Linked DNA regions of Homo sapiens: region 1 is linked to region 2. The links come from fine-mapping of genetic effects on gene expression. Tissue or cell type: whole blood. Region 2 holds a variant in brackets; the other region holds the start of a gene. All regions are shown on one strand. Distances are between the middles of the regions.

Region 1 (2,500 bases), 110 kb before region 2:
CTGGCCAACATGGTAAAAACCGTCTCTATCAAAAAAACAAAAAAAAATTAGCCGGGCGTGGTGGCGTGCGCCTGGGAGGCTGAGGCAGGAGAAACACTTGAACCCGGGAGGTGGAGGTGGAAGTGAGCCCAGATCACGCCACTGCACTGCAGCCTGGGCTACAGAGGGAGACTCCTTCTCAAAAAATAAATAATAAATGTTTTAATTGCAAAAATTAGCATGTAGAAAATAGGGCAAAAATACAAATTGTCTGTGATGCTAAGCCCGAGACACCCAACAAGTTAATTTTCCTGTTTTTAGCGTAAAATCTTTCAAATAAATAACTACTGCTTTTAGTCTCTGCACCAGGAATCTCACGTGCTTTCAAATGTTTTACAAAGCACGTAAAAAAGTATTTGAAAAGTCCCACTTACCCCTCCCACTCCTATTTTTAAGATTATTAGGATCGGCCCAAATTTAAAAATTTAACAAAAAGAGTGCTTATTAATTACATTTTAAAATGAAGGGTTACAAAAAGAGATGAGCCTGGCATTTCTAATTCGGGGGCCTTGGGACCTCTCCCCTCCAAGTGCAAGTTGTAGCAACCTGCCGGGTCCACGCATGGGCGGGTCATACTCCACGGGTTCCGGTTTCCACTCCCTGTGAACCAAAAGCCAGAGAGGCCCACGCACGAGTCCGGAAGTGAGGGAGGGAGGACTTTCGTACGCAGCCGCCTCCCAGCTGGAACCTCATCTTTAGTGCTCGGCCGCGGGCGGCGTAACTCGGGGTTCCGCCTCGGAATACCTCCCACTTCTCTTGTCTAAGAGGAGCAGTAGCAAGCTGAGCTCAGAGCGAAGCTGGCGAGCCAAGGAGATAAAGAACCCTCGGTGGGGATGCCCAGAGGGTGCATGCTCCACGCCCCTCGAAACCGATTCTCATTGCTGCTGCTGCAAAGCAACCCGAAGTGCGCCACCTACCCGACTGAGGCTGCGCAAGCCCCGGGGTCTGGGCGGGGTGGTCCTCGTGCGCGCCGCGTCGCCGTGGAGACGAGGGCGGGCCCGCGCGAGACTGGCGTCTAGAGGCGCGCGAAGCGCTGAGGCGGGCGTGGACCGCGCGGGAGTTAAGAAGCAGGTCCCGGATCGCCGTATACCGCCGGGTTTTCTCCCAACGTCAGGCCCGATGGCTCGGCTTCCCCAGGTACGAGGCCCGGCCCTAACGTCCCCACCCTCTTCTGGGCTCGGCCTTTCCGGCAGTGAGCCCGGCAAGGACCTCAGTCGGGTTCCTCCGAGCCCGGTGAAATCTGTCCGAGCCTCCGCTTCCTCCCCTGAAAGTGCAGGTGATGTTGTCTACCTGCGGGTCTGTGGTGCGGGAATGGAGGAAGTGCGACAAGAGGGCGCAGGACGGGGCCCGGAGCCTGCCATCCTCTCCCGCCGCGTCTTCTCGGCTTCTTGTCTTCCGCCCTGGGGGCACCGCATCCTCCCAGGCGTCTAGTGCGCTCCTGGCCGGTGCTCGAGTCCACGCAATGCCCCTTAGCGTGCGCGGATCCAAATCAGGGGTTTCCTCCTCCCGGCTCCGTGGCCCAGGAGCGGAAGGGCTGGTATATGGGCGACCTTACTCCCACTGAGCCCGCAGGGAGTAACGCAGTAAACAAACCTGGAAGCCTTCCCCGCGTGGGAGGTGGGTACCTGTTTTTATGGGAGGCTGTTCAGGTTTCTTAACTGCTGTGTAGATGTGTTGTAAATATTTGTTGAATGAATGATGTGAGGGACTTGAGTACAGCCATACCTCGCTTTATTGCACTTCACAGATACCGTGTTTTTTACAAATTGAAAGTTTGTAGCAAGCAGCCCTGCACCGAGCAACTATTTTTTCAACAGCATGTGCCCACTTCCTGTCACTTACACTTTGGTAACTATCGCTATATTTCAAACTTTTTATTTCAGGTGCACCGTTACAGTGATCTGTGATCAGTGATCTTTGATGTTGTTATTGCAATTGTTTTAGGTGGCCACGAACCTCACTGGTATAAGACAGCAAACTTAAGTGTTGTGTCTGACTGCTCCACTACCTGCCAGTTCCCTGTTTCTCTCCTCCCTCTCGGTCCTCCTTGTAGCCTGAGAGGCAACAATATTGAAATTAGGCCAATTAATAGCCCCACAGTGGCCCCTAAGTGTTCAGTGAAAGGAAGAGTTCCATGTCTCTCACTTTATATCAAAAGCTAGAAATGACGAAGCTAGAAATGACGAAGCTAGAAATGCCTATGCTCTGTAAATGCAACAACAAACCCAGGATGACCACACATCTCTTTACTGAATGTCTTTACATCATATTTACAGTGTGGTTTACTGAATATTTTAAGCCTACTATCGAGACCTACTGTTCAGAAAAAAGGATTCCTTTCAAGATATTACTGGTCATTAACAAGGCACCTGGTCACCAAGGAACTCTGATGAAGATGTACAAAGAGATTAATGTTACTTTACATGTCTGCTAACACAGTATGCATTCTATAGCCCATGGT
Region 2 (2,709 bases):
GGCAGTCAGCGATCAAGGTGTGGCAGGGCCATGCTTCTCCACAGGCTCTAGGGGAGGGTCCTTCCTTGCCTCTCCCAGCTTGTTTCTTGCTTGTCATGGCTTTCCTGGACGTGTAGACCCATTGCTCCAGTCTTTGCCCCATCTTGACATATCGTTCCCTTCCTGTGTCTGGGTCCCTTAGAAGGACTCTGGTCATATCGGATGAAGGGCCCACCCTACTTGAGTGTGACACCATCCTAACCAATTACATCTGCAGTGAGCCTAGTGCCAGATAAAAGTCACATTGTGAGGTTCCAGGAAGGACATGAATACGGCAGGTGTGGAGGGGGCACTGTTCAGTCCAGTATATCTTAGAAATCTATTCCCAACTGACTGCCAACCAGTTTATGTTAAAATGGAAGGCTAGAGCTTGAGATCTACAGAGAAATAAAGAAAAGAAGCTGGAATGGAGGAGCTTGGGGTGGTTGGGGAGGGGGTTGTTTTGATGGGAAAGTCCTTGCTGCTTGTCAGGGCAGCCCCCACCGTGTTAGCGTCCTGCTTCCTTGTGTAGCTGGGCCCTTAAATGTTTAGGGGCCAGAGACTTTCTAATTCGATCTCAGGAAGTCCTGCTGCCTGCTGTATATACATCTTTGGAAAGATTGCAGGGCACAGTGGTACACACCTATAGTCCCAGCTACTTGGGAGCCTGAGGTGGGAGGATCACTTGAGCCCAAGAGCTGGAGGCTGCAATGAACTATGATCACACCACTGCACTCCAGCTTGGGTGACAGAATGAGACCCAGTCTCTCTCTTTTTTGAGACAGAGTCTCACTCTGTCTCCCAGGCTGGAGTGCAGTGGTGCGATCTCGGCTCACTGCAACCTCCACCTCTTGGGGTTCAAGCGAATCTCCTGCCTCAGCCTCCAGAGTAGCGGGGACTACAGGTGTGTGCCACCACGCCAGGCTAATTTTTTGTATTCTTAGTAGAGACAGGATTTCACCGTGTTAGCTGGGATGGTCTCGATCTCCTCACCTCGTGATCCGTCCGTCTCGGCCTCCCAAAGTGCTGGGATTACAGGCGTGAGCCACTACACCTGGCCAAGACCTAGTCTCTTTTAAAAAATCTTTGGAAAGATAGTCTAGAACAGGAGTCCATGCCCCTGCTTGCAAGATGCACAGACACGCGGCAGACCCATGGGGAGCTGTCTCCTAACACAGCTAGGGGTCCCATAGTAGGAGAATCTGACACGCTGAAGGGGACAGCTCATTTTTAGAATAAATGAAAATACAAATAAAAGTGAAAACATTTAGAAATTGTTTAAATTGGCCCATAGAGAAATTGACCAAGTGGTTAAGTTGGTTTAATAGAGTTTGCTCCAGGACAAAACTGAATCAGCTTTGGTTTGGTTC[C/T]GACTGTAGCGTGTGTGTTAATGAGCATGTTTCAACACACATCCTGGGGACAAAACCCTGGGGTCAGCCATCCCACACGGCTGCATTACTGCGCCACGAATGTGCTGCTGGGTCCTGGAGCTTCTCCTCAGCTCAGAAACCAGCACTGTGTTTCTAGTTTACGAAGAAAGAAGCCGAGGGCTTTAGCCAGACCTTGGGCTCTGGAGCTTCTGCACCTGACCCTTTGGGCACCTGACCGTGCAGCTTCAAGCTCCAGAGGCTTTTGGCCAGTTTGGGTCAGCTGCCTTAAGGGTCAGGTGCCCACTCCTGGCCATGGTGGGAAGTTAGAGGCGACGGGTTTGAGTGTTGCCGGAAGCCGCTGCTCTCTGAAGGACTTTCCTTAGAGGGAGGCGGTGGCAGGCTTGGGTTGCCACGTCCATTACAGATGGTATGAGAGGCTTGGGAGACTGGGCTGCAAGACAGTGTACACGTAGTAGGTACACAGTAAATACCTGGGGAACAATTGACTGGCTTGTATTAAGGCCTCAGTGTCTCAGGCACACCTTGGCAGGCCAAGGGTGGGACTGGGAGGAGGGACTGAGGGGAGGATGTCACAAGACCCATTATGCAGAGTGCTGAAGAAGTACAGGCTGGCGGTCATAACCTGGCTGTGTGTGTGACCTCCAGCAGGCCCCCTCTCTGAGTCTCAATGTCTTCATCTGTAAGATGGGGATAACAGTGCCTACCTCTTGGGGTTGTCGTGGAGATCAAGTGAGATGACAGGTAGAGAGATACACACTTAGGACAGAGCCCAGGCATCAGCATGCAGCACTAATGTGGGTGCCTCCCACTTGTGATCTGCCGCCTTCCCTGCCTGCCTCAGTGGGCCTGGAGGGCTCCTCATCTTGGCATCTGTGCCCTGCTCTCAACCCTGTTCTGTTGTCTCAAAAAGAAAGTTCTCTCAGGGCCTAAGAAGGATTCACCAAAGGGAGAATCTGGTGACACAAAAACAAAATGCAGGATGTGGCCCATTCCTGCAGAACCCAGGGAGCCAGAGGGCATGGCCTGGCGACCAGCGCTGTCCTCCCCATCCGTGGCTTGGGCTGCTCTGACTGCTGTGACTGGGCCTTGGTTTCCACCCTGGCAAAACAGGCTGCCCTCTCTTCCAAGCTGCAGCTGAAGTGGGGGCTCCTCCTCCTCCCCCCTCAGACTGAGGGTCTTCTTCCACGTGCCCAGCAGCATTTTGCACGTGACTCTTAGGGTGCCCCTGGCACCCCTGTGGAGGCTGTGGACAGGCTTGTGGCTCTCAGAGGGCTGTTGGGGAGCACAACAGTAAACAGAT

What was found. PIP is the estimated chance that this variant, and not a neighbour inherited with it, causes the effect.
Region 1: it holds the start of SFI1, and the variant in region 2 is fine-mapped to the expression of SFI1 in whole blood (TOPMed, PIP above 0.99).

What each region holds. Positions count from the first base shown.
Region 1 is chr22:31,495,462-31,497,961 of GRCh38, forward strand. SFI1 (SFI1 centrin binding protein) reads left to right here and starts at 1,075. Exons shown (of 33, transcript NM_001007467.3): 1 at 1,075-1,176. RefSeq lists silencers at 917-1,136, 2,037-2,096 and an enhancer at 1,157-1,426.
Region 2 is chr22:31,608,220-31,610,928 of GRCh38, forward strand. The region is part of intron 22 of SFI1 (SFI1 centrin binding protein); the gene reads left to right. Among named protein-coding and RNA genes, the nearest start is that of MIR7109, 12 kb to the right of the region's middle. RefSeq lists an enhancer at 1,899-2,545. The variant C/T (reference allele first, on the strand shown) is at 1,389.